Linked DNA regions of Homo sapiens. The main gene of each other region encodes a partner of the protein of the gene in region 2 in a complex. Each region holds a gene or a part of one and is shown on either strand. Other genes may lie near its edges. The genes, in order: SMIM20, SURF1, COA1 and CMC1.

Region 1 (7,021 bases), on a different chromosome or scaffold from region 2:
AAAAGCTTTTCAGTTGCTTTTGTTGCTGCTGTTACCTAGATACATACACCATCTGCCTCTGGGGTATTCCAGAACTGGAGGTTCACTGGTGGTGAGTGTGAACCAGGGGCCAAGGGGAAGCCATATGACCGCAGCAGCAAGTGCAACCCAGTTGGCTGAAGGGGACCAAATGGACGTGGTGACAAGAAAGAACCAGGGACGGAGGGGAAGCCATATGACCACAGGAGCAAGTGTGACCCAGTTGGCTGAAGGGGACCAAGTAGCCACTTGAAGCACTGCACTCCTCCCAACAGTGTCAACAGGTCTGTTTCCTCACCAGAGCCTGGTTGAATCCAGGGAACTGTGTAATGCCAGTTAGAAAACAAGACCCAGTCTGCCTGCGCATTTCATTCGATTATGTGGTGAAAGGACTGAAAAGCATATTCTAAGCACCTGGCATGTCACAAGGAAAATGCCCTGACAAGGTAAGAATTCTTTCTGCATCAGGTGATTTCCAGTACCGTGTGCTGCCTAGGCATAGCCTCCTTTTGGGCAGGGGCAGCAAGGTGCAGCGGAAATCAACAGGACTGAGAAGCAGCAGAACTGAGGTCTCACAGCTCTCCCCTGTGGCCTTTCACTTGGCTGGCTGTTGAACATTCTTCACTGTCTGAAGGCATCATGAGGCAGGGCATTAAGTACAGGCAAGGTCAAGGAGTTAGGGCCTAGTGTCCACCCAGCAACTAATGTGCTGAGTAACCTTGGACAAGTCACTAAATGAGGGGACGGAAATGAGCTCAAGCCCCTTCTGGTCAAACCCTATGATTTTATGCTTCTGAACATCCAATTAAAATTTCAAATGAAAAGGATCACAGAAAATGATCTTATTCTGTCTAATTTCACAGGCTGGCCTCAAATGCATGTTATTTGTAAAAGGCCATATTCAGGGTCACTGTCTAGTTCTAGGAAACAAAGACAGATTAGCCATCTGTACTCTTCCCTAACTGTGGCCTCTTCAGACCAAACATGCTATGCCAACAGGGTGAAAGCTAAAAAGTGTCTGGGACTCCCTCCAGAAGTACAGCAGAACTGTACCCAGACTTCTGGTTTTGGGTCACTGACCCACTGATGCCATCATCTGTCCAGCGCTCATTTCAGTACTTGAGGTATCATGTACAGAACTGCCTTGTACTCCACATAACACTTAGGAAAGCCTTGCTAAGTTAACGAAAGAACTGAAGATCATGCTGAACGCCAAAATGAAATCCAATAAGGCAGTCTGGTGATAGTGGCTGCCTGCTCTGCAACCATGGAAGATCTCCTTGGCTTTGTTTTACCTAAGCAGGCTTCCCCTTCTTTTCTGCTGCCTGTATGCTTGTTCCAGCAGAGACCCTGGAACGTACCTGTCCCCATATCCATGCTGGCACAGGTGAAGGGCCCGGACTGATCTGACACTTGGCTCTACATGGACTGCCTTGCCAGTTGCCAGCCCTAAGTCTTGCTTTTACCAGTAACCCAGTTCTCAGGGAGTAGGCTTCTGCCCTGTCCATCCAAGAATGATGGGCTTCTGCCCCACAGTCTCAGGATCCTGGGGAATGAAATGTATGAAGGACGGTCAGGAGAGAAGGCCTAACAAGAAAGGCTAACAGGAGTGGCTGAAAGGCAGGAGCAAAAGAGCAAACCCAGGAGGACCTTCCACGGTGGAGAGGCCCAGGGAAGACAGTGCTCCAAGGAAGGAGAGGATGGCCTAGAGTTGGTGCCTCTTACTCATAAATGACCTGACTTCCTGTGTCACAAAGAGAATAGACGCCATCACCTGGAAGTGCCCACAACTTGCCAACATCAAACCTAGATATGGCAGCATCCACACCATCCTTCCTCCTGAGCTGGTGGAAGAGGTGCCTTGCCTTTGGTCCAAGGCTCTTTCCTCTACTTGAGCTCAGGATCTCATGTCACCTCCCACTCTACGGACTGTCTTCTCTCTCCAGCAGCTTTCTCTGTCTAAGACTTTCTTGGCCCTCCATCTCTTCCAGCCAAAACTAAAAGAAAACTCTTCCCAGACCCTGTGACCTGCTGGAAACTTTGCCATTCTCCTCTCCATACAGCTAAACATCTATAAATAGTCAACTTAATACACTATTAATAGTCAACTTAATACACTTCAATCCACTGCAACCTGCCTTCTGCCTACTTCCAAACCACTGAAAGCATGTTTAACAATATAACCAATCACTTCTAACTTATTTCTGTTAAATATAATTCATATTTTCACTTATCTCTTTTACTGTCTCTAAGCAGCCTAACCCTGCTGACCACACTCCCTTTTCATGAAGAGCTGTCTTTATGGGGCTTGTGACTGCAGCCTCTCCTGGTTTAAAACCTGTCTAGCCACTCCTCCTCAGTCTCCTTAGAGGGCCTTTCTCTTCCTCTGACCCCCTATGCTTCAGCCCTTCTGACACTGGTGTTCCCCAGCACACTGCCCCGGGCCAGCTTGCCCCTTACAATCTCTGAATGCTGCCTGGGAACCCTTACCTACTGCAGTGACCTGATTCCCAGCCACGTGCTGATGATGCCCCATCTCCAGCTGCAGCTCACATCCGGCGTCTCAGCCCCAGATCGGTATATTCCATTGTCTATGGGAAATCTCAAAGAGCACATCAGCTACCTCAGCCTCAAAAGCTACCCAAATGCCCAAAAGCAAACTAACTTGTCTTTTCACCCCTAAAACCAATTCCTTCTTGTGTTTTCTAGCTAATGACCAGCATCTCCATCTCCTCAGCTGCTGGAGCCAGAACACTGGGTGCCATTCTCCTTCTTTGCCCCGTGGCTAATCAGCCACAGACCCCTGTAGAGTTTACTTCTTTTCTTTTTTTTAAATGAGACAGGGTCGCGCCATGTTGCTCAGGCTGGTTTGAACTCCTGGACTCCAGCGATCCTCCTGCGTCAGCTTCCCAAAGTGCTGGGATTACAGGTTTGAGCCACCATGCCCACCAGTTTGCTTCTTAAATATGGCTCCCAAATGCAGTCACTTATCTCCACTCCCATAGCCACCACTCTGGTCTCCCTGAGGTCACAGGAAACACAGCCTTCCCGTACCTGGCCTTCCTGTCCCCAGATTTGACTTTTCCACCTTCTAGTTAACATACAATCAATCAGAGTGATGCTTGTAAAGAGTGAATATGATCACTGCTCTTACTAACATACAGTCCTGTGTCACTCATCTGTGGGAGTACATTCTGAGAAATGCGTCCTTAGGTGATTTCATTGTTGTGCAACCATCATAGAGTGTACTTGCACAAACCTAGACAGTGTAGCCTACTACACACCCAGGCTATGTGATATAGCCTATTGTTCCTAGGCTACAAACCTGTACAGCCTGGTACTGTACTGAATACTGCAGGCAACTGTAACACATGGTAAAGATTTGTGTGTCTAAACATAGCTAAACTTGAAAAGGTACAGTAAAAACACTGTATAAAAGATTTTCCAAATGGTGTACCCAAATAGGATATTTACCTTGAATGAATCCTGCAGGAGTGGAAGTTGCTCTGGGTGAGTGAGTGGTGAGTGAATGTGAAGGCCTAAGACATTACTGTACACTACTACAGACTCTATAAACACTGCACACTTAGGCTACACTACATTTATTGTTTAAAATTTCTTTCTTCAGTAATAAATGAACCTCAGCTAGCTTTTTTACTTTATAAACTTTTAAATTTTTAAAACTTTTTGACTCTTATAGTAACATTTAGCTTAAAACACAAACATCTACAGCTGTACAAAAATATTTTCTCTTTATATATCTTCATTCTATAGACATCTTTCTATTTTAAAATTATTATTATTTTTTCCTTTTTAAACTTTTGTGTGAGAAACTAAGATACAACATATATATTAGCCTAGGCCCACACAGGGTCAGGATCATCAGGACATCACTAGGCGACAGAAATTTTTCAGCACCATGATAATCTTATGGGACCACTGTCATACATGGTCTATCGCGGGCCAAAATATGATACAGCACATGACTATACTTCAATAACCCTCCACTGGCTGGACTTCCAAGACACCAAAGGGTTACTGGAGCACTGTAATTAAGCAAGTGAGATGATTAAATTTGGATGGCGTGACAAACTTTTCAAAAACCATGGCAGAAGACCTGCAGTTCTATACATTTTCCAATAGACAAAAACAGAGGTTCCCAGTTACAAATTCTTACCAAAGAAGTAGTAACAGATGTATGTCAGAAGGGAGAAAACTGAAGCTAGAAAGGAGTGAAATGTAAGCAGCGTCGGTGAGTAAAGAACGCGGGTGAAGATAAACAGTCAGTGACCATATACAATAGTGATGGTGTTAACTGATTTGCTGAGTCACAGGCACCAGGCAGGACAAATATATTATGTCAGGTGCATGGGACAAAGGTTAAGGCATTATAAGGACCTTGTATTGTTCAAGGGTAAAGACACTGACTAACTCTAAACTTTATAAAAGAACAAAAATAGAATTTAAAACTTTCAAACTAGTAGCGGGAAGAGAAGAATAAAGAAGGCTTGAGGCAGAAAAGAAGAAAAAAAGGAAGCATAGAAATAGAACAGAAGGCCGGGTGCAGTGGCTCATGCCTGTAATCCTAACACTTTGAGAGGCTGAGACAGCCGGATTGCCTGAGCTCAGGAGTTTGAGACCAGCCTGGGCAACATGGTGAAAGCCCATCTCTACTAAAATACAGGAAAAAAAAAAAATTAGCCGGGCGTGGTGGCATGTGCCTGTAATCCCAGCTACTTGAGAGGCTGAGGCAGGAGAACTGCTTGAATCCAGGAGGCAGAGGTTGCAGTGAGCCGAGATCTTGCCACTGCACTAACAATCTGGTGACAGAGCAAGACTGTCTCAAGAAAAAAAAAAGAAGACACAAAATGAGGTGAGAAAAATAAATGCAAATATATCAGTAAATAGAATAAATGAAAATTAATCCAATCCAATAGTTAAAAGAGCTTATCAGGTTGGATTAAAATATCTAGTTTATGTTGGTTTTAAGATATTCACAGGCCAGGCGCGGTGGCTCACGCCTGTAATCCCAGCACTTTGGGAGGCCGAGGCGGGTGGATCATGAGGTCAGGAGATCGAGACCATCCTGGCTAACAAGGTGAAACCCCGTCTCTACTAAAAATACAAAAAATTAGCCGGGCGCGGTGGCGGGCGCCTGTAGTCCCAGCTACTCGGGAGGCTGAGGCAGGAGAATGGCGTGAACCCGGGAAGCGGAGCTTGCAGTGAGCCGAGATTGCGCCACTGCAGTCCGCAGTCCGGCCTGGGCGACAGAGCGAGACTCCGTCTCAAAAAAAAAAAAAAAAAAAAAAAAAAGATATTCACATAAGGACAAAGTCTGCGTGTATAAGGAGAGAAACAGATAAGCTAGGAAAATATTAAAAGAAATCTGGGCTGGGAGCAGTGGCTCATGCCTGTAATCCCAGCACTTTGGGAGGCTGAGGCAGGTAGATCACCTGAGGTCAAAGAGTTCGAGACCAGCCTGGCCAACATGGTGAAACCCCGTCTCTAGTAAAAAATACAAAAAAATAGCCAGGCGTGGTGGTGGGCACCTGTAATCCCAGCTACTTGGGAGGCTGAGGCAGGAGAATTACTAGAACCTGGGAAGCGGAGGTTGCAGTGAGCTAAGATCACACCATTGCACTCCAGCCTCCAGCCTAGGCATCAACAGCGAAACTCCATCTCAAAAAAAAAAGGAATCTGGTAGCACAATAAAATCAGATAAAATAGAGATGGGGAAGAACAGTGGAGATAAAGATAATTCTTATATAATGATAATTAGAAAAAATTATCCAGAATTTTCTAGATTGTATGCACCTAATAACATGGCCACAGGACATCCAAATACAAACAGAATTAAGAAGCTTGATCTGTAATTAACATACACAGATACAGAACTCTGTACCCAACAAGAGAACAGCCACCATTCCAAGCACACAGGGAATATTTACAAAAACTGACCTGGGCCAGGCGCGGTGGCTCACGCCTGTAATCCCAGCACTTTGGGAGGCCGAGGCAGGCGGATCACGAGGTCAGGAGGTCGAGACCATCCTGGCTAACACGGTGAAACCCCGTCTCTACTGATAATACAAAAAATTAGCCGGGCGTGGTGGCGGGCACCTGTAATCCCAGCTACTTGGGAGGCTGAGGCAGGAGAATGGCGTGAACCCGGGAGGCGGAGCTTGCAGTGAGCAGAGATCACGCCACTGCACTCCAGCCTGGGCGAAAGAGCGAGACTCTGTCTCAAAAAAAAAAAAAACAAAAAAAAAAAACTGACCTGTACCAGGCCCCAAAGCAAGTCTTGACCAGTGTCAGAGAATCAAAATCATATAGTCCACATTCTCTGACCATAAATGCAAATAAGATAGAAACCAGCAACCAAAAGTCACCAGAAAAGACCACTGTGGCTGCTAGGTAGAGAATGGGTAGTAGGTGGGACACAATGGAAGCAGCTCAGTCCCAGGAATGGGTGGAGCGAGGTGGACAGGACAAGGGTAGGAAGAGCATGATGGAAGGAAGTGACTGACCATGCTGTTTGGTTAGGTGCAGTCCACACCCAGCACAGTGCCAGGCACCCAGCGATTGCTAGAATCCAGGTTTCTTCTAAAAAAGAGAGTGCTAAATAAATGCTAGTTGAATGTGTTGGAATGAGCTGAAGATCCGACCACACAGTGGGTTTCCATGACCTGATCATGAACACCTCATCCCAGTTTACTGCTAGGTCAGCCAGCTCCAGGCCTATCCACCTGCTAAAATCTCCATGTCTCACATTCCTGCCCTTGTGGCTCATTATTTTGTAAACATTTTAATAAAATATCTAATATAAGACTATAGTAGGTGTTTCCACACCTGTTACCCCATTTAATTCACCCCAAACCCTGTAAATTCAATCCAGTGAACTACACTGCTACAGATGAGGAAACAGGCAGGGCTCAGAGAAGTGAAGTAACTTAGATGAGGGTCATTCATCTAGTAGGCTATGCAGACACTCATCTCCCCCATTGCC
Region 2 (7,735 bases):
AGGACACACGGTTTGATCAGGAGCGGGGGAAATATCTGAAGGCTTTCTCGAAACTTCACGGCATGTGCTTTTATTAACCTGGCTGTTTACAGGAGCTGAAGCTCTTGGGTTTGCGGTGATGACTCTTGAACTTCTTTTTCAACGAGCCCAACTGCTTCTGTGGGATAAACAAAATTCTGATTACTGAGCCTTTCTGATCCCATGGAGAAGGGGCCCTGGAGTGCAGGGCTCTCCCCACCCACACAGCCTCAGAGGTGTCGGTCAAATACCCACAGAGGCTTTCTCCACCCCCGTTTCCTTAACAGCTGCAGGATTAGACCCCGCTCAGCAGGGCCTCAGAGGAGTACAGTGCAATGCCACACACTCATTAGGACCTTGTCCTCTTTTGGCCTTGGTCCTGCTTATCTACCAAAGGCGGGGAAGTCTCCACTCCTGCCCTGATGGCAAAGGCAAAGGTGGTGGCTAGTAATCAGGTCCCTGTGCCCAGGGGTAAGGACAAACACGCCACAGCTCATAGTCTGAGGTAGGAGGGTGTCCTCACAAACCAGTGGTCTTGACCGTGGTCCACAGAGCCTGGCTTCCACAAGGGGCTGGCTGGGAAGCAATGGTAGGCACTCACGGCCTTCCGCCAGCCAGCGGCCTCGGCTTCTATGGTTCTTGTGTGTTGTTGGCTTGGGATTTCACTTGTGAAAAAGGTTCAGTTTTCTTTTTTTAAACAAATGGAAAACCATCACTAGGGGAAGCCACTGCCACACTAACAGAGGAGGTGACAGCTCACCTTCCCGCGCTTCTGGACCAGCCCTCGGTACACGGTCGTCTCTCTCCTGCCCTCATCAGTGGCCTTCTCTCTTGGGGGCTTTGCCTTCTCATCCTCTTTGTCTGTCAAAAAGTCATCAGTGCCATCCCCATCCTCCGTGCTTCCAAGGTCCTTTCTGGTGAATAGCTCAGCTGGGAGGAACACAGGGATTGGCTGACAGTTATTTTAGGCTGAGTTCGCTGCCACCTTTGCAGGGGAGGCAGCACCACAGTCTGCTCCCTGCTGACAGTAGAGGGTCAGGGAGAAGCAGGGCCTGTTCTGCTTACGTGGGTACAGGTCTGTCATGCTGTCATCACTTGCAGCTCCCCCCTCATCACTGGATGTGGGCTCCCAGAAGGCTTCCCGCGGGCGAGGCCCGTCACCGTCCATCTGGTCCTCCCTCCTCCTCCTCCGGTGCACCAGGCAGGCAGGCACGTACTCCACCCCTTGCTTCTGACATTCTTCATCTGGGAGATAAGCCAGCACGTGCTGGGTACCTCCACACCCCCCACGGTCCTCTGGGCCACAGCTAACTTATGAGGACTGCACTCGGCCAGGGCCCCACAGCCCCACCGCCCTGGACAAAAACCAGAGCAGCTGCTGGGTGCCTCAGCTCTGTTCCTACCAGGTGTGCAGGGAGGGTGGTGGGCCAGGGCTGCAGCCAGGAGGCAAGAAGATGGTAGAGGTCTACGGGGCCTTTACCACTCATCCCCGATCTAGCCAGGCCTAGGAAGCCACGGCTAGGAGGGCACTGACCAGGCCCAAGGCCAACTGTGCCCCAGTGAGCTTGGCATGGCCTCTCAAAGGCAACTCGGGCTGGCAGTGATGCCACCCTCTCCCCAGCAGCCTGAAGTCCTCCCTCAGCACATGGGAGACCCCGTCCCGGAGGGCGGGGCTCAGTGGAGGTTGGCTGCCTGGCCTTTGCTGCCCCTTAGTGGGTGAGAAGGGAGTTGGGACAAGGCTTCCATGGAAAGACCTCACTGGAGTCACCACCGTTGTCCCCTTGTATATTGGAGGGTCTGCTGGGGCTTGCCCTCCAGCCCAGCGCAGCTACCATCATCATCCCTCATGGGCTGCATGAGCCCTGCTGGGCCCTGGCCATTGATGTGGCGGCCCATCTCCAGGGCTGTTTCCCTCCTTGTCTCTGCCACCCACCCCCATGGCCATGCAGCAGCCTTGTCACCACCAGAACGTGAAGGCAGAGCCCCCTTACAGCCACGTTTGGACTTCCCTGGACCACTGCCTTGCAGTGACCTCGGCGCCCCAGTCCCATCTCAGCTCCACAGTCCACCATCATAACCATTCTTCATGGGAACCCCGTGGCCCCCTGCACTTAGAGCCTTCCTGCCCACCCCTGAGCAGCTAACACACTGGCTGGAAAAAGTCCAAGCCTCAGGCTGGCAGCCCTTGTGCCTGCAAGGCCTCTGCAAGGTGCCCGCCTTCTACTTGAGAAACCCTGGTCCTGCCTTCTCAATCCACACTCATGCTTCGGGAGGGCTGGACTGCCTCTCCGCACTCATCAGAAGCCCGTAGACGCATCTTCCCATCCGCAAACCAACCTGAATCTGTCCGCTCCAGCCTCTGTCCATTTCCCTCCTTAGCTGGACTCCAGAAAGGCTTTCTGGTGACCCAGCACCTGCCTAAGGCCGGACACTGCCCTCATGGGCTGCAGCCTACGCTCCACTCTAGCCAGGTGTCCCTGCCAAGCTTCAGGTGCCTCACCAAGGTTGCCAGGGGCCTCTGTGTTATCAAATCTATCATTTTTCTGTCCTCATCTTCCCTTCAGTACCACGGGAGGACTTCCAGCCTCTTCCTGGGGCTCAGGACCAGGCCTCTCTCCCTTCTCTAAACTCTCGCCGGGTGCTCACCCAGATCCACGGTGCAACCATCTCCTTCATCCAGCACGGGTGTCCCTGTTTCAAAAGCCCGATACTTCCCTAATACACACCTTTCCTAATACAGCTCAAGCTTAAAACCTTCAAAGGGACTCTGAATTCTCCCCCCAAAACCCACCGTCTTTTCCTGGATGACCGCAGTCAAGGAGTCCTCCCTTCTCAACCATGCACACTGTCCATGCAGCCCCCACCCAACCCTCTCCACACACCCACTGCAGTGCTCCTGGCCTGGTCTCTGGGTCATCCGGGCTGTGCACACTAGCCCAGCCAGTCCTTTGGAGCCTACCTCAGCCAACACATTTTTGCCTCAGACTTCCATGGACCCTGGCTTCTCCCTGGGGTGCTGTTCCCCCGACCCCACTGCCACCACATCCCTCCAGCCTCAGCCTCGAGCGAATCCCTCAGCGAGTCTCCCCAGCCCTCCTGTCTCCGCAAGCCCACCCCACATCCCTCGCCCAGTTTCTTTCACACCTCGCATTGCCACGCACACTCACTCACTCCCGAGCCTGCTTCTGGCTCTGTGCCTGCCTGCACTAAAAGCTGTGGGGTCAGGGGCCATCATCCCTCTCTTCACTGTGCCAAAAAACAGGCCTGATGCATCAACACGGATCGCTGAAGGACGACCTGCCTTCAAGCACGCTCCATCTGGGGCAAGGCGGGCATGCACTCAGATGGCGATGCACTGATGGGGGTCCACTGGGACTTACATTTACACAGAGCTCGCTGGTACCGCCGGCCCTGGGTGTGCCTCAGCACGTGTTCTGGGCACTTGTTGATGTGCCGCAGGGTGAGTTTGCAGAACAACTGGTGCCTACAGAGCAGAGAGACCAAATTTGTAGGGACAGTTCACAGCAAGGATTCAGACTGGTGGCTGTGTCTTGGACTCATCCCTGGACAGTCTACCATGCGGCTTGGACATCGGGCTTTTAAAGGCTCCCGGAGCAATTCCACTCTGAAGCTGGGTGGGGAACCGTCTGACCCAGGCCGACTGCAGCCTCTTAATGTTTACCGGAAAAGCACGCATGGCAGCCTCACTGACTGCTCCAGGATGAGTTCATGCAAGAGGATGGCTCCACCTGGAGCAAGGGCTCAATGAATGGAAACATCCTATCTCTGTTTTGACGATTATTACAAAGCCTAGCTCCCAGCTAAATCAAAGACCCCTTCTGGGGTTAAGGGAAGAACCCAACGCTGTTCACAACCTCAGGTGACAAATCACAAGCCTCTACTCATCTGGGAAGCAGCCACACCCCACAGGACAAACCTCAGGTGAGCAAACGAGCTCACCAAGAGGCCTCGCCGCTGGGACCGCAGGTGATTCCAGCACCCGGGCGCCCACCTGGGTCCCAGGGCTCCCAACTCTGAAAGAGTAGGGGCTGCAGCACTGGCGGAGTCCAGCGGAGGGGCTGTCCTAATTGCCCTGGGCCTCCCCGCGCCGCCGCGGACCACCTACGGGTTCTTGGTGCTGGGCACGATGTGCGGCTCGAACTCTGCATAGTCGAAGGCCGGGGAGGCGCGGACCAGCCGCTGGTACTTTTTGCCGCGGGTGTAGACCTGGAGCTCCGGCAGGCGGCAGGGCAGCTCGTGACCTGTCAGGATGCACCTCACCTGCGGACGCGTGGGCGGGCAGGACGTCAGGAGGGCCAGGGCTCCGCTCCCTGGTGCCCCCTCCTGCCGCGCCCCCTTCCCTCTCCTCCCCTGATCCCGCCGCGCCCTCTCCCCTGCCCTCCCCTCTCTCCTGCTCTCCCCTCTCCCCTCTCCCCTGCCCTCTCCTCTCCCCTGCCCTCCCCTCAGCCCCTCATCCCAACTGCGCCCTTCTCCGCCACTCCGTTCCCCTCCCGCGCTGCGAACCTTGCGGGCGTCCGTCTGGAGCCGCAGGCTCGGGTGCTCCCGCAGAAACGCCCGCACGTCGCCCGGCAACTCGCTCATGGCCGACGCGCCCGCGGAGCAGCCCGGCGGAAGCCGCTCGCAGAACCTGGAGCCGGGGGCGGGGCTCTGGGCGGGACTCAGCGGCGCCCCGGATGCAGATGCTTCCTGCGTCCCGGAAGCGCCCGCGGGGCCGGGTGCGATGGCGGCGGTGGCTGCGTTGCAGCTGGGGCTGCGGGCGGCGGGGCTGGGACGGGTGAGCGCCGGGTGCGGGGTGCGGGGTGCGGGGCGCGGGGAGGGGTCCCGGAGCTCAGCCCGCCCGTCCGTGTCCGCAGGCCCCGGCCAGCGCCGCCTGGAGGAGCGTCCTCAGGGTCTCCCCGCGCCCAGGTGAGGGCTGCAGGCCGGGCTGTGATCCAGGCGCCTGGGCAGAGCCACCTGCTGTCTGCCCTGCACTTTGAAGGGTTGTCGTGGGGATTGAAATGAACCAACTGCCGGCTGAGCGGAGGCTCCCTGGGAGTGACAAGTTCCGTATTAAAATGCTTTCAGTGGAATTGTGGTCGTGTGCCGGGCATGTAGCGAGCGCTTTGTCCTCACAACGCGAGAGGTAGCTCCTTGGTCGTTCCCCTGTTACAGAGAAGGCTCGAGAGTTACTTCCGAACGTCCCATCCAGCTAATGGGTGGCCAGCCCAGGCTGAAAGCCCAGGGCTCTGAAAGTAAAGCGTATCTAACCACCGCGGCTTACGTGTTCCTCTCAGTGTGCAGCACAGGGCTGTTTTGCCGTGTGTAGAGTGCTGTGCAAGCCTGCCCCAGGCCTGCCTTTTTATAAAAAAAAAAAAAAAAATAGTATCCGCAAGGCCCCTGGTGCTTTTCAGCGGATGGAACTCATCCTCTGAGAGCTTAAAGGCACTTTCTGTGTACATTCTTCCCTCTTTACATTTACGATGAGTTGTAAAAATGGAAAGCTGTTAAGAGAGCTCTGTGAGCCATTACTGAATTGATATATTTTTCTACATAACACAACAACCACTAGTGCCTGACTAAGCTACTTAGTAACTGTAGCTGCTTATTTTTTATTTTTTGAGACAGTTTCGCTCTTGTTGCCCAGGCTGGAGTGCAGTGGCGCAATCTCGGCTTACAGCAACCACCTCCTCCCAGGTTCAAGCGATTCTCCTGCCTCAGCCTCCCGAGTAGCTGGGATTACAGAAGCACCATCGTGCTCAGCTAATTTTTGCATTTTTTTGTAGAGATGGGGTTTCTGCATGTTGGTCAGGCTGGTCTCGAACTCCTGATCTCGTGATCCGCCCGCCTTGGCCTCCCAAAGTGCTGGGATTACAGGCGTGAGCCACCGTGCCCGGCCAACTGTAGCTGCTTATTAAATGCATTTTGAATGGATGAATGGTGCATCTTAGTGCAGTGGAATACATCTAGATTCTTGAGTAAAAAGGCATGAGTTACTCAGGGTCGTGGTTGGTGGTCAAACCGGCACTGAGCCCTAGATCCCACTTACTCACTTGGCAGACGTACTGTGTGTGCCTTGTTCTGGGCACCGGGTTAGGAGCTGGGCTGGATACAGGTGCTGCTAGTTGGCTCTAGGCAGCAGGTTTTGATTGGCAGTACTGGAGTCTGTCTTGGAACGGGCTGCTCCAGGTCTGTGTTCGAGGGCTTCTGGCTCCATGTCAGTGTTGTGAAACTCTCCAGGGGTGGCCTGGAGGCCAAGCAGATGTGGCAGTTCTGCAGCAGAAGCATCTGCCACAAAAGCGGAAGATGACTCCTTTCTTCAGTGGGTCCTGCTCCTCATCCCTGTGACTGCCTTTGGCTTGGGGACATGGCAGGTAAAGACCGGCATCTGGTGTGCGTAACTCTGGGCCCTTGACCTTGCTGCCATCTGCTTGGCCTTATGCTCTGTCACTGTAGGTCCAGCGTCGGAAGTGGAAGCTGAACCTGATTGCAGAGTTGGAGTCCAGAGTTCTGGCTGAGCCTGTCCCTCTGCCAGCCGAGTGAGTGCATGGCTGCCCCCCTAGGGCCTGTTTTACTTGAGTTCAACAGCAGAGCCCTGGCTTCTGCTGGCCAGCTTGCCCCTTTTGGTGGGACTTTTAGTCACTGCCTTGACCTCAGGTGGGAGCTCTCATTATCAGTCATCTGTTGGGCTTGCTGTTGACACCTGACTGCCCTTGTGAAGCTACCTGAGACCGCCTCCTGACATATGGAGGAAAGTCTTATTTTGAGTCCTGGGTGTCACCCTTTTTTCAGGTATAGTAAACTTATCCTCCACAGGGCCCAAGGCCCTGTGGCTGAGGACAGATAATGTAGGTCTCACCGTGAGGGTGGTCGTTTGAAAAAGTGCCCTGAATGATTTGTCTGCTCTCTCCCTAGAATATGCCCTACAGAGATAGGTATATTCAGCCACATTTTCCATTCAGGGTAGCAAACAGTATGCCAGATTTGGCTTGCAGATGGGGTTTTGGCCCACATATTTTTTAAAATTTCACATAAAATATTCATTGAGGAGTCCAGATTTTTAGCCTCTCTTGTAAAGTTGGACTCTGGCAGTGCAGATCCACATTCCCACATGGCATCAAAGTTCCCCTTTGAAGAGCACGCCCTTTGCCTTTCTCCTTCACTTGTCTGGCCCTGGTGGGCTGTGTAGTCTGCCACCCTCAGGGGATTCGTTTTCCAGCCAAACCTTGCTCGGCCACTGTTCTTATCTCCATGCAGCCCAATGGAACTGAAAAATCTGGAGTATAGGCCAGTGAAGGTCAGGGGGTGCTTTGACCATTCCAAGGAGCTGTATATGATGCCCCGGACCATGGTGGACCCTGTCCGGGAGGCCCGGGAGGGCGGCCTCATCTCCTCCTCAACTCAGAGTGGGGCCTATGTGGTCACTCCCTTCCACTGCACCGACCTGGGGTGAGTAGGACATGTGGGAGCTGGCTGTCCTGGCAGAGGCAGTCAGGGTATACTAATTTACATCACTATTTCCTTCACAATCCCCAACCTTGGTAGGACCCTGGGGAACCCAAGATACCCAGGAGATTCAATTCCTTGCATAGTTTAAGTCCCTAATTGTGACATTGACTTAATCTTCTCAGCCAGCTCATTTATGACTGGATAATTTCTGTATGTTGACCTCTGAAGGGAAAGGAGGGATTCGTGAAACAGGGGCCCTGCCTCTGGAGAA
Region 3 (7,982 bases), on a different chromosome or scaffold from region 2:
TCCTAAAAATCAATAAAGACAAAACTCCATACGGAATGGCAAATTATAAAGTTTTTCCTTGCTTCATTTTTCAAGTCTTAAAATGCTCCTCACGGGTTCTTTCACAGCATTTTTCCTGGGCCTGGCCTCCCACGTAGTTGTTGGAAAACCATCACTCTCTAAACCACAGCCACATACCCATAAGGAGGTCTCCAGGGCTACAAAAAATTAATCTCATGTGCTTTTCATTTAAAAGAACGGTAGCATAATCTAAAAGACTATCACATATCTGATAAATGACTTGTATCTAGAATATATAAAGAACTCTTGCAACTCAATTACAAAAAAGAACCTAATTTAAAAATGGGCAGAGGATCTGAGTACACATTTCTCCAAAGAAGATAAATAAATGGGCAATAAGCACTTGAAAAGATGCTCAACATCATTAGCCATCAGGGAAATACGATTTGAAACCATAATATTTTCAAAAAGTTAGGAGATTTTTAATGGTCGCAACACAAAGAAAAGATGAACGTTTCAGGTGGTGGACATACTAATTACCTGATTTGATCACTACACATTGTATACATTTATCAAAATATCACTCTGTAGTCCCTAAATATGTACAATTATTACATGTCAACGAAAAAGAATGAAAACACAATGACACACACTTCACACCCACTGGAATGGCTAGAATCAGAAAGACAGATAATGACAAGTGTTGGCAAGGAGTGAGAAATCAAAACCCTAATACACTACTGGTGCGAATGTTAAAAAGATGCACACTGATGCTTTGGAAAACAGTCTGACCATTTCTTAAAATGTTAAACAGAGCTACCATATGACCCAGCCATTTCACTCCTAGGCACATACGCAAGAGAAATGAAAACATGATGTCCACACAAAAACTTGTAGGTGAATGTTCACAGCAGCATTACACATAATGGCCAAAAGGTGGAAACAATCCAAACGTCCACTAACTAATGGAAAATAAATCGTGGTAATACCCATAAAAGATTAACCAGCAATAAAAAAAAGTACTGACACATGCTATTAAATACAACACAGATGAACATGAATGTTAAGTAAAAGAAGCCAGTTGAAAAAGACCACATGCTGTATGATTTCACTCACATGAATAATCCAGAATAGTCAAATATACAGTCAGTCAATTCATAGTTGCTTAGGGCTTAGAATGGGGAGTGGGGATGGGGAAGTCAGGTGAGCCTGCTGAATAAGTACAGGGTTTCCTTTTGGAGTGATGAAAATGTTCAATTGTTCCAATATGGCTCTCACAAACTGAATGCAGCATATTAAACATGAACAAAAGAATACAAGAATAACTTATTGGAGTCTGTCTGAAATAGAAAATTAAACCAACTAATGAAGGTGAAGAAGATTACAGCATATTTTATGATGATGGTTGTACAACTTTGTGAATGTACTAATGTACTAATTACTTTTAGGTTTTCTTTCTTTTTTTTTTTTTTTGAGATGGAGTCTAGCTCTCTCGCCCAGGCTGGAGTGCAGTGGCGCAATCTCGGCTCACTGCAAGCTCCACCTCCCGGGTTCACACCATCCTCCTGCCTCAGCCTCCCAAGTAGCTGGGACTACAGGCTCCCGCCACCACGCCCGGCTAATTTTTTGTATTTTTAGTGGAGACGGGGTTTCACCGTGTTAGCCAGGACGGTCTTGATCTCCTGACCTCGTGATCCACCCGCCTCGGCCTCCCAAAGTGCTGGGATTACAGGCGTGAGGCACCGCTACGTTTTAAATGGTGAACTCTACGGTAGGTGAACTATGTGTCAGGAAGCTGTTTTATTTTTTTAAAGGACTGAAGACTTTTGTTTTGTGTTTTGTTTTGTTTTCATTTTATCCCGTTTTTAAAACAGTGCCTAGCAATATTATGAATTCAATCGATTTTGGCTAAATGCTAGAACAAAAATTAAAACTTGAGTAAACCATATAAAACTTTGCCATATCTAAAGTTATTAAATTACCGTAGACTGGCATGGTGGGAGCATAATATGAGTGTACCTGCAGGTGTGTTTTCCATGAAAGTAGCAAAGACTGAAAAACTCAGCAGAATCAAGACCCTGTAGGCCCTTGAAGTTAGGCTAAGAAATGTGTATTATCCTGAAAGCAACGGGAAGGCCAGGAAGATTCTGAGGACAGAAATAACACAATCTGATATGCGTTTTAAACGTGCAGGTGTAAGCGGAGAGTTGCTACTTCTATCCAAACGTGAGCCACCTCAGAAATAAAGCAATAGCCCTCCGGGGAGAATGGGGAGGAATCAGGGGAAGACCGGAGAAACAGGTTATCAAATTATCAGAATCTCCATAGATTTTTTTAAATTACACAGCATCCACCCCCAAACACACATACAGACTGATAGGCACTGATATATACATAAATACATCCAATGTCCCCTACACAGAAAATCACTTTTGCAGTCAGCCCCTGTTGGGAGGGTTTTTCTGTTATTCAAGTGTGGTGGGGACAAAAAGTATTATAACCACTAAACCAGGTAATTCTTTCCTACAATAATTTGGGCAGCGTACTCCTCAGGGTGTTGAAATTTAGCACTACCAACAAAAGTGCCCAGTCCCAACTCTTCGAGAGGACCCTAACTCTTTACAGTGTGCTGTTGGGGATGGTCAGCAAAAACTGCAGGACAAGGTCAAGGTTAGCTCGACACAGCCTCCTAACTCCGAGCGGACGGAGCCACTGAAGGTTACCAGGTGCCAAAGAAGCTGCGCAGGGAGGCCGCGACCCGGCGCCGGCGCGAACCTCCGCGATGTGACCCGTGAGGGAACTCTCCAAGAAGCAGCGCACCCCGCGCGCAAAGGCGGCCCCCCGAATTGCAGGAACAAACGCTTCTTGCTGGGGGGAAGACGGAGACTCTTATACCGCGGGAGACTAACCTGTGAGCAACAGAAGCACCACGCTACAAAGAGCATGACGAGTTCTTCCAGGCTTGGGAAAGCACGGGTAAATGCCCGCGGTCCTGCGCGCCAGCGGGGAGCAGTAGAGACTTCCGGCGTCGGCTGCTCGCAGGGCTAGAGCGTCGAACCGGGACAACCGGAGGCTTCAGCTCACCTCGGATTGTAAATGCTAACACGGGTCCTCCGGCCGGCTGATCCAGAACTTAGGTCGCCGGGACGTGTGGCTTCTGCTTCTCAGACGCTCGGACTCGCGCCGGGAAGGGTTTCGCCTCCCCTGGTCCCCGCTTTTTTTTTTTTTTTCTGCGTCCGGTTATTGCAAATGCATTCAGTCCAGTAGCACTAGCCCAGGAAATATAAGCCACCGGCTCACGTTGCTCCTCACAGGTATGCGGCGCTTCCGCTGGCCTCCAAGGACACGAAGCCCCGGGCCGTCTGGCCCCCCACTCTAGCACTGAAATTCCTGCCGCCCCGTTCAGCTGACAAATTTGGCAGCACTAAATTTTATTTTATTCGACAAATTAAGTACCCAGTTAACACCAGGGAGTAACGGGGTAAGAAAATTTCAGAAGGCTGGTGGATAATAATAGCATTTACCTCATAAATTTGTTATGAGGATGTGAAGCACTTAGAGTAGTGTCTGGCAGTTTGTAGGCGCTCAGTAACTGTTAGCTGTTATTATTTTTATATTGATTATTCCATAGTCACCACTATTATCACCTTAATGTCAAGCTTGAAATCCAGTATCTTTCCTCTGCGAAGCCATCACTCCAAGACTAATTAACTTTAGACTGGGGCATTCTTCTTTAAACTCTTGCTCACACATCCCTATCAGAAAAAATATATATATATTTACATGTGTCATGTATGGCATTAATATATTATGCATGCTATAAAACTCACAAGACATCAAACTTTTGATGAGGTAAAAACAATTTTTAAACTTTTTTAAAAACTTCTAACAGAAGTTCTTTTCTTCCTCCACAACAATTAGGTTGCCAAACATACATTCTATCACTCTGGAATCCACTAGCTAAATGAGCACATTATCAAAGCAACCTACCGCTGAATTCTGACTTCCCAGAATGTTTCTTTTCCAAAGAATTAATAGAAACTAATCAGATTGTGAAGTGCTCGGCCATAAGGACTATTTAAATGGTTCTTAGAGAAAAAGAAGAAATAAAATAGGCATCCACTGAGTAATATTCATTGATGCAACATTGATTATTGACTTATTACATTTTCAAAGAGATTGAGGTTATAATACCTTACACCAAGCTTAATATTTCAAAGAATAAATCAACTAATAAAAAGCTTATGAGGTTTGGTATATGTGCATTTCATACAACGTTCATGAAAATGAACCCGAGATCAATTAGCTCCCGTTCTGTACCAGAAAGAGAAATATGTTTACTTTGTAAGTAATAAAACATTAAATAGGCTTTTCTGACCATTTGCTTGAAAACTCAGAACTTAACATTTCTATCACTGGACTTAAATCTGCTAAAGTTTTCGTCTAAATTTTACATTAAAAACAAAACTCTATAGTGAATAATGTTACCTATCCAATATTCATTTTCCTCTAACTCCTTTGTACCAAAATCCTTATTTTATTCAGATAGCTGCCCTGTTCCCAGAATCAAAATGATACTGATTAAACCAGTCATCACACAGAATTTTTTTGTCGTCTAAATTTTACATTAAAAACAAAACTCTATAGTGAATAATGTTACCTATCCAATATTCATTTTCCTCTAACTCCTTTGTACCAAAATCCTTATTTTATTCAGATAGCTGCCCTGTTCCCAGAATCAAAATGATACTGATTAAACCAGTCTTCACACAGAATTTTTTTGGAAATAGTTGCTAATCAAGGAACGAGTATATGACCCAGGTTGGCGCAATCTGACTGAAGGAAAGGACCTCTATTTCATGCTCAGGAGAAAGTTTCTGATATACTGTCCTCTTGACGTCGAAACATCTATCCCACACTGTCATTAGTAGCCATCTTGCCCATCACAAGGAATAAAACTGATGGACCAATGCTGAGGACAACTGAACAAGTTATAAAACAATGTCCTTGGTGACATCATTCCAAACCTGGAGCTCACCCTGTATCTGAATGCCTTGTAGGAATGTCTAATAAGTTTCCTTATTGTTTTTGTTTTCTGTTTTTCTGAGACTGAGTCTCACTCTGTCGCCCAGGCAGGAATGCAGTGGCATGATCTCAGCTCACTGCAACCTCTGCCTCCCGGGTTCAAGCAATTCTCCTGCTTCAGCCTCCCAAGTAGCTGTAACTACAGGCATGCACTGCCACGCCTGGCTAATTTTTGTATTTTTAGTAGAGAAGGGGTTTCACCATGTTGGCCAGGCTTCTCTTGAACTCCTGACCTCAGTGATCCACCCACCTTGGCCTCCCAGAGTGCTGGGATCCTTACTGTTTTCTGATAGAGATGCCATAAAGATTAAATGGGTTAAAATAGTGCTGGTCATATTGTAAGTATTTTAAGTGCTTAATAAATTTTAGTTATTATTAACTCACCTTAAGTCAGGGATTCTGTTTCTTATAGCCAAAATTACCCATCAAAATACACATTCTACCTCTCTTTTTCTATATATTTAAAGAAAGGGTCTGTTTTGATACTTTTAAACTAAGGAGCCAGGGAAGGGGTAGGAGGTGAAGAGAGGAGGGGCTGACTATAATGCTGTATGAGGGCTACTGTTAAGTGGTTAAATGGCTGCTTTGAGATTCACTCAAGAGCAGCAGGATCCTATAACTATCAAATCTGAATGAGGTTACTACACATCGTAGTTGTATGTATACATGAAAGTATCATTTCCTGCATATTAATATTGTGATCCACTGCCTTACTAAGTTGCTTTATTGTTTGGAGTTCATTCTGGTAGAATTTCTAAGATTGCAATCTTATCATTGAAATAGTTTTACCTACTTCTTTCCAAGTTTTATACCTCTACTTTCTCATATCTAATTGTTTTGGCTAGTATCTCCAGTAAAATATTTAATAATAATAATGACAGTAGACTTTTATGTCTTATTCCTATCTTTAATGAGATATCTTTAGAATTTTCCCATTAAGCATGATGCTGGTTTTAAGGACTGAAGTAGACATCTTTTATCATGTTAAGGAACTATCCACCTATTGAGAGAAAGAAGAAAATTTTGGCATAAGAGCTTTGAGAAAACAAAGCATTGAGCGTGCCATAATGTCCTGTCATAAAAATAAGTAAAAGTTAGACAGTATTTACCTCAAAGACACTGAGAAAATTAACATTAGCTAGGTTGGTATGAATGTCCTTTCTTGCTTATCTTACTACCAGCATGAAATTCAGTCCTGCCTAGTTTGTTTACAAGAAATTCACCTGTGATATCCTGATTTTTAACCCTGAAAAAGTTATTTATCTCTTACAATATGTCCTGTTTAATGTAAAGTTAATGCTTGCTCTACATGTTTTTTGTTTTTTGCTTTTGTGTTTGCTTTTACATGTACTCCAAGCACATGCTCTACATGTTTGTTATAGGAAATAATGTGCACCTCCTATAATTTTGTTATAGGAAATTGTAGCTGTTCAAATATGCTGATTGCAAAAAATAAAGGACATTTTATAATAATTGGGTTAGATCATCAAGAAGATATAACAGTCTTAAATTTGTATGAATCTGGCCAGGCGCAGTGGCTCACGCCTGTAATCCCAGCACTGTGGGAGGCTAAGGCAGGCGGATCACGAGGTCAGGAGTTCGAGACCAGTGTGACCAACATAGTGAAACCCCATCTCTACTAAAAATACAAAAATTGGCCAGGCGTCGTGGTGCGCATCTGTAATCCCATCTACTCAGGAGGCTGAGGCAGTAGAATCGCTTGAACCTGGGAGGCAGAGGTTGCAGTGAGCCGAGATCGTGCCACTGCACTCCAGCCTGGGCAACAGAGCGAGACTCCGTCTCAAAATAAAAAAAATTGTTTGGAACTAATAGCAGAGCTTCAATAAATGTGAAGCAAAGACTGACAGGACAATTCAAAAAATTGGAAATTGTAGGCTGGGTGCGGTGGTTCACACCTGTAGTCCCAGCACTTTGAGAGGCCAAGGTGGACGGATCGCGAGGTCAGGAGTTCAAGACCAGCCTGACCAACAGGGTGAAACCCTGTCTCTTCTAAAAATACAAAAATCGGCCTGGCATGATGGCGTGCACCTGTAATCCCAGCTACTCAGGAGGCTGAGGCAGGAGAATTGCTTGAACCCAGGAGGTAGAGGTTGCAGTGAGCCGAGATTGCAGCACTGCACTCCAGCCTGGGTGACAGAGTGAGACTCCATCTAAAAAAAAGAAGAAAAAAGAAAAGAAAAATTGAAAATTGTAGTGGAGATTTTAACATTCATCTCTCAGCAATTAATAGAAAAACTAGACCAAAAAATCAGTAAGTGCATAAAAAACTGGAGCAACACTATTAACCAACTTGACCTGTTTAATATTTATAGAACACTCCATAAATAGCTAAATGCACCTTTTAAGTGTGTAGAATATTTTTATGCCAGTTCATAAACATTGATAAACTTAAATACATTGAAATTGTATAAAGTTTTTTGTCTTACCATAATTATAAATTAGTAACAGATATCTGGAAAACACAAATATTTTGAAATTAAGTAACACACTTCTTTTGAAATTAAGTATACATTTTGACTCATGGGTCAAAGAAGTAATGGTAAAGGAAACAGGCGTATTTTGAAGTGAATAAAAATAAAAATATATATCAAAAGGCATTGAATGCAGTTAAAGTAGTGCTTTAGAGAGGAAAATTATAGCATTGCATTCTTAATATAAGGAATAAAAATATAAGAAAAGAAAAAGTATAAGTTAAATTATTTTAGCTTCCACTTTAAGAAATTGGGGGGAAAATTAAAAATAATAGAAAATGAAATAATAAAGATAATTTTGGAAATCAATTAAGTAAAAGAGCTAGTTCTTTTTTCAGTTTATTTATTTTTGAGATGAAGTCTTGCTATGTTTCCTAGGCTGGTCACAAACTTCTGGGCTCAAGC
Region 4 (7,021 bases), on a different chromosome or scaffold from region 2:
TAAAAAAAAAATCTAACGGAAAAGCTTTCCTACATAATCATGTTTTAGGCATTTAGCAGAAAGTCAGATCACTTATTAAAATTCCTGTATCTTTTATCTAAGAACCATACAATTGGCATATATAATGCTTTTATATAAAATCCTATAATTATTTAATAAAGCAAAAGCTATAAACAGTAAATAAACTACAATGGAAATGTCCCGATTCTAAATTATGTATAACTGTTGAGTTTAAATGAAGTTTTCTTCTGCTGCTTGAATAATTCTAATGTATATGATTTCCTAATTTATATGGTTAGAAAATACTAAAGACTTCTTATTCTCTTATCAATTTTAGATTCTAAAATATTGTTTTGAATCACATGGCCTAAAAAATCAATACATAATTATCTATAAGATATTCAAATTATATTATTACATTCTAATATAGATGAATACATTTAAATAATCCAAATGAGTCACAGATTTTAAGATGCTTTCAGTCTTCAGAAACCGTAAGTATATTAAAACAGCAAAAACTTAACTACGTCAACATCCTAAACAACTTAACTTTTGATGAAGTGAAAATTAAACACTTTATTTTCTGTACCATTATAAAACACTAGTTTTGTAACACAAATAAATATTTTAAAGTTATACTCTACGCTTTCATTTCAAAAACCAAAAATAAAACTCAAAGTCATACAATCATTCTGCATTTTCCTTGGAATTATGTCAGTAAAAATTAAATCTGTAATTGAGTTAGCTAGCTTTCTTTCATTCTAGGTATAAAGACAATATGCTACATGACAGCACACATACAACTTATATGTGTAACTTTAGACTGATATATCAGTAATAAGTAAATTTTCCTAGCAGTAAAAAGCCCTACAACTTTATTATAGGGTTTTTAAGTTTTATCTCCCCTCACCTGAATCAGGATATATATTTTTTAAGTTGTATGAGGAATGTGCAGGATGTACCTCTTGTGACCATAAACATGACACCTACCAATGCCATACATGCACTACCTGCAGGTGTCAATAGGTTGACGTCTCAAGACATCTGGGGGTAGGTGTTAAAGAAAGGTACTCTGATTAAACTAACTCACAAGAATCAAGAGTAAAACCATTGGATGGTTATTTATATGAGTTTTAAAATGGAATAGGTCATAATAAGTTATTGAAGAAACAAAAATTACCATCACACATTGTTGATTCCAAAGAACTACTCTTTATTTTATTGCCTCCATTCATCAATTGCAAAGGTCCTCTCTAAGGGCAGAGGACAGGGAAGGGAACAAAAGCGTTCCTAGTATCCAAATGTTATTGACCCAGTCCTGAAATTAGAGTTGACACAGCCCTGCTCCCCTGTAGTGAAGCTTGCAGTGGAAGTGCAGCCCATCATCCTCACTAAAAATTATTGTGGTCCCTCAATAAAGATGACCACAGGGAAAGTGAAGAAGTAAAGCCAGGAAAATAGCCTATGCCCATAAAAGTTTATTACTTCTTTTTGATGGCCCTTCCAAGAGACAGAATTTTTTAAAGATATTTCTAAAGTAATATTGCCATGTGCTTTTCTAATAACTCATCATTTACAAATGTATTATGGCCTCACTATTCACCTTTCACTGCTTTCTTTACATGTTTCACTAGAATATTACATATTAATCACTGATGTCTCTAGATCTATAGGAGTATTTCATGTTAAAACATTTTCCAAAGAAAACATACACTTGTAGCTGTCTAGTGTATGTATTTACATAAATATCTTCCACTTAGAAACATAAAACAAAACAAAAACCCCAGACTCACTGTAAGTCCTATCAGGATTCTATTAACAATTCAGTAATAGACAATGACACCAAAGAAAATCACCTTAGAATATATATATGTATGCGAATATGGTGACAGATGGGAAACAGGTATATGTTAGATTTGATGTTTCTTCCTCCCCTATAAAAATCGTAAGAGTAACTTGTTTCTCCAAATTACTCATACCAAGTTTTTCCATGTATATAACTGTACCTCTGAGGGTAAAAAAACAAAAAATGTTTTTTACTAGTAATTTAGGGAAATATTTTTAAACTGTAAATGAATTGAACATCACTGGAAGTTCTGAAAGCTGAAATACTGGTATTTCAGCGAAAGGGTGAGAAGCAATTCATACATATTAATTCATTGACTACTTGATTCTGGGGCTAAGGATTAAATTCAGATCATATTATTAAAAATAAATTTGATCTTTACATGAATATTTGAATGTTACCTTGAACTTGTTCAGAACACCTCTCTTTGGCCTTTTCTCTCATTATTTTAGGGATCAAAACATCTTTTTCGACATGTCTGAGATGCTGGTCTGAAAAAAAAAAGATCTTTCTTTAATAAAGTCTCAAGCAAATCACCAGATTAAAGGAAAAATAAGACTCTGGTTTACTTAAAATAAAAGCCTATGCAAATATACTCAAAACTTACAACCTTATGAAATTGTGATTATTTTAGTCATTAAAACTCATCCTATTTGCAATGTTTTTTTATATACAACAACAAAAATGTGAGGAATACAAGCAACATGTTTCTTAAAATTTCTGCAAACTATACTACAACATCTTTACTTTATAACATATTCCATGCAATCTTGTCAAAGTTGGCATCTAAATCATTCCCTTATTAATATAATCCACAAAAGAGGATTTTCACCGATACTGAGATCCAAGAATAGATGAAGAGATACAAGATTAAGAGACACACAAGTAGTTTTTCTACCTAGTAGTAAGAGTAGCCTAAAAAAGAACTAACAGAAGAAAAGGTGGAACTACAAGTCCATATGAAAACAAAGCGTGTGTGATTTCTCTGCATTTTAAACACAACTTCCACAACTGGACTAAAATGGCAAATTGAACACCTGCTCTAGAGTCCCACCTGCTCCTTAAATGCTAAGAGAGTCCTGAAAAATAAACAAAGGATAAGTGCCTTCAGTGAACCAAAAAAGATGAGGAATCTCTGAAAGAAAAAAAGGCAGATTAGATCAGATTAAATGAGGTAATCATATTACTATAGAGTATCCAGGAAAAACACGCATGCCAAAAGTGGGTGCTGCTCCATGCTCTGAAGCAGCAAATATGGAAAGCAAGAAAACTTCCCTGGAGGAAACTAAACAGTTATTAATTAAAGTGACTCAGTAGGAGCCAAATGGTCACCTCCTCTGCTGCCTTCAGGCCACGGGTGAAAAAAGTATATATAGGTATTTATCCCCAAAAGACCAGAAAGTTTCCCATTAAAAGAATATAGGAAAGAAGATTTTAGATTATTATTAAGTATAATAAATATACTGAGGCAAATACAAAGACCTGAGTCCTCAGACAGCAATGGACCATGGATTACCTAAATGCACTCTGATGAAATGTCTGAAACCCCAAAATCCTAAAAGCTTCAAAAGGGAATAAACACTGCCTACATAAAGGAATGAGAATCAGATTTACATCATGGCTCACTGGCAAGACATGATGCAACAAGACAATGGAGAAATAACTTCAAAGTTCTGAGAGAGAATTATAAAGAATTACAAAGAATTCTAGAGTCTCTAAACTACCAATTATGAGTGAGGTTAAGGACATTCAGATATATAGGAACTAAAATGCTTACCACCTTCAAACCCTACAGAAAAAGAAGTAATCTCCTTATTACAGTTGATCCTTGAACGACACGGGTTTGAACTGTGGGGGTCCACTTAATACTCAGATATTATCCAACCAAATGCAGATTGAAAATACAATATTTTGGAGATGCGAACCTATATGGTATACCAACTTTTCAGGCCAACTTTTCATACACATGGGTTCTGAGGGGCCCATGGTGGGACTTGAGAATGCACAGGTTTTGGTAAATATGGGGCTCCTGAAACCAATCCCCTTCGTACACTGGGGAATGACTACTATGTGCAACAACTACTCATCAAATTTAGTGATGTAAAACAATAAACAATAAACTATGGGTCAGAGGGGCCTGATCTGGGAAGACTCAAAGTTCCGGTGGCTCTGGTGTGCATTTTAAACACAACTTCCAAAATTGGACTAAAATGGCAAATTGAACACCTGCTCTAGAGTCCCACCAGCTACAAAAGCTGGGGCTGGAGGATTTACTTCCAAAATTACTTCTTTTTTCATATATGTATCTGACATCTGGCCTGGAATGGCCAAAAGAAGTGCTCAGTTAGGACTGTAAACCAGAACATCTACCAATGGCCTCTCTACCTGGAGCCATGCAACACCATTCGTTCATGCTACACTATACTGATTTCAAGTCATTAAGGATAGCCCACACTCAGGTGGAAGGAAATCAGATTCTATTCTTGGTAACAAAACCACACTACAGAAAAGCATGAAGAATGGGAGATAATTTTGTAACCTTCTTTGTAAAATAAAATCTCTCACAAGATGTAACAGAGAATATGCTCTGATAGAAAAAAAAAAACTGAACGCATGATATACAAATGTAAAATATATGTCATATTACAAAAACATATATTTAAGTTCGTTAAAACTGTGAAGTACTTGAACAACATTATCAACTAACTTGACCTAACTAACATTTATAGAATACTCTACCTAATAACAGCAGAACATCTACTAAGATAAACCACAATCTGGCTATAAAACAAATCTCAATAAATCTGAAGGAATTTCAAGCCCTACAAACTATGTTCCCTGACACCAATGTAATTAAATTAGCAACCAATAACAGATCTCCGGATAATCGCCAAATATTTGTAAGCTAAATAACGCACTTTTAAATAACCCATGGATCTAAGAAAATGCCAAAAAGGAAATGCGAAAGTATTTTGATATGAATGAAAATAAAAACACAATATATCAAAATTTATGTGATGCAGCTAAAACAGTACTTGGCAGGAAATTTGTAGCACTAAAAACCTATCTAGAAAAAGAAAAAAGGTCTTGTATTAACTTAAGTTTCTACCTTGAGAAACCAGAAAAAGGGTAAAATAAACACAAAGCAAGCAAAAGAGGAAAAGATAAATATCAAAATATAAATCAATGAAATAAAGAATACCACACAAATAAAAGAAAAAAAAAACAATGAAATTAAAGCTGGTTCGAGAGGATAAGATCAATAAAATTTATAAACCACTAGCCAGACTAAGGTCACAAATTTCAAACATCAGAAATGATAAATATTTTTAAATAATAAGGGAATATTATGAACAAATTTAGGCCAATGAACTTGACAACTAGAATGAAATGAATAAATTCCTTTAAAAAAACTACAAACCAACCAAAGCTCACTCAAGAAGGCACAGATACCTTGATACTAAAAGCAAGAACGGTATTTACAAAACACATACACACACACACCAAATCTACACACCAGTATGCCTCATGAACACAGATGCAAAAATCCTCAACAAAATATTAACAAATCAAACTCAGCAATACATAAAAAGAAAGACACATAACAAAAATGTTGGACTTATTCCAGGGAGGCAAGGGTGGTTCACCATTCAAAATTCAAACCATGTAATCCATGAGATATATTAACAGTCCAAAAAAGGAAAACCATATAATCATATCGATGCCAAAAAAAATTGGACAAAATTCTACATGCATTCATAAAAAACAAAATCAGTATACGTGGAACAGAAGAGAACTTCTTTAATGAAGGGCATCTACAAAAAATCTTCTAGCTTACATCATACTTAATACTAAAACTCTGAACGCTTTCCCTATAAAAAAAGAAACATGGTATAAAATTACACAGAATTATACACACACACATATGAGTACACGTAAAAACTGGTGAAAACTGAAAAGATCTATAATCTAGTTAACAGTATTGTATCAACTTCAGTTTCCTGGTTTTGATATTGTACTACAGATATATAAGATGTCACCACTGGGGAAAGCTATGAGATGGACACTCAAGACTATATAGCATTTTTCACAATTTTATGTGAGTCTATATTTCAAAATAAAAAGTTAAAGAAAAAAACTTCTAGAAACAATCACAGGAGAAAATCCTCATGATGCAGATGTCATATAATTACAGAACAACAAAAAAAATGCATGTAAAAAGTGGTGAAATTCGACTAAGATTAGTACCTGAATCAACAATATTATACCATTGCCAATTCCCAGTTTCCTTGTCCACATTTAATTATAGGAGCCTGTCCCAACCTTTTTTAATTTTTGCCCTAAAAGGACCCTTTTTTGACATTTTTTCCTAATGTACCCCTATGAAATGTTAATATCACAGATATAGCATATATGTTTATGCACTGCGGGTGTAACATTGTTTTATACATTAAGAGAGTAATATTTCTGTCTCCACCAATGTCAATTGTTATCCTTTTGAAGGCAGTTATCACACCCACTGAGAATATACATATCATGGTTATGTAAGATAGCATCATTAGGGAAAGGGAAGAAGGCAGGTACATGGAAACTGCATGATTTTGTAGTTTCCTATTATTATTATTATATTATTAAAAAATAAAGTTATAATAAAAAAGTGAAAAAACATACAAGGAAGCACAAAGGACATAGAATAGCCAAAACAACACTAAAACAGAAGAACAAATTTAGATGCTATGCAGCAACTACCCGATTACAAGTCATACTACAAAACTACAGAAGTCAAGACGACGTAGTGCTGGCATAATTTGGGTAGCCAAAAAGAGTAATGTAACAAAAGAGAACAAAAGAATCCACAAGGCCAGGCACAGTGGCTCACGCCTGTAATCCCAGCACTTTGGGAGGCCGAGGCGGGCGGATCACGAGGTCAGGAAATCGAGACCATCCTGGCTAACACAGTGAAACCCTGTCTCTACTAAAAAAAAATATAAAAAATGACCCGGACTTGGTGGCGGGTGCCTGTAGTCCCAGCTACTCCGGAGGCTGAGGCAGGAGAATGGCATGAACCCGGGAGGCAGAGCTTGCAGTGAGCTGAGATCTCACCACTGAACTCCAGCCTGGGTGACAGTGCGAGATTCCATCTCAAAAAAAAAAAAAAAAAAAAAAATCCAGAAA

What was found.
Region 1: SURF1 (region 2) and SMIM20 share a complex: the UniProt entries of both Homo sapiens proteins name them as parts of the MITRAC (mitochondrial translation regulation assembly intermediate of cytochrome c oxidase complex) complex.
Region 3: SURF1 (region 2) and COA1 share a complex: the UniProt entries of both Homo sapiens proteins name them as parts of the MITRAC (mitochondrial translation regulation assembly intermediate of cytochrome c oxidase complex) complex.
Region 4: SURF1 (region 2) and CMC1 share a complex: the UniProt entries of both Homo sapiens proteins name them as parts of the MITRAC (mitochondrial translation regulation assembly intermediate of cytochrome c oxidase complex) complex.

Annotation. Positions count from the first base shown.
Region 1 is NC_000004.12:25,917,200-25,924,220, reverse strand, and holds part of SMIM20 (small integral membrane protein 20), read right to left. Parts: intron 1-7,021.
Region 2 is NC_000009.12:133,353,478-133,361,212, reverse strand, and holds the start of SURF1 (surfeit locus protein 1), read left to right. Parts: upstream 1-4,725; 5' UTR 4,726-4,759; coding exon 4,760-4,813; intron 4,814-4,892; coding exon 4,893-4,944; intron 4,945-6,255; coding exon 6,256-6,389; intron 6,390-6,471; coding exon 6,472-6,554; intron 6,555-7,272; coding exon 7,273-7,464; intron 7,465-7,735. Other genes in the region: SURF2 (surfeit locus protein 2), read right to left, coding at 74-157, 779-948, 1,084-1,263, 3,399-3,502, 4,145-4,299, 4,543-4,620. UniProt on the Homo sapiens protein: Component of the MITRAC (mitochondrial translation regulation assembly intermediate of cytochrome c oxidase complex) complex, that regulates cytochrome c oxidase assembly.
Region 3 is NC_000007.14:43,726,520-43,734,501, forward strand, and holds the start of COA1 (cytochrome c oxidase assembly factor 1 homolog), read right to left. Parts: upstream 3,005-7,982; 5' UTR 2,910-3,004; exon of another isoform or gene 2,724-2,909; intron 1-2,723. UniProt on the Homo sapiens protein: Component of the MITRAC (mitochondrial translation regulation assembly intermediate of cytochrome c oxidase complex) complex, that regulates cytochrome c oxidase assembly.
Region 4 is NC_000003.12:28,258,607-28,265,627, reverse strand, and holds part of CMC1 (COX assembly mitochondrial protein homolog), read right to left. Parts: intron 2,338-7,021; coding exon 2,248-2,337; intron 1-2,247. UniProt on the Homo sapiens protein: Component of the MITRAC (mitochondrial translation regulation assembly intermediate of cytochrome c oxidase complex) complex, that regulates cytochrome c oxidase assembly.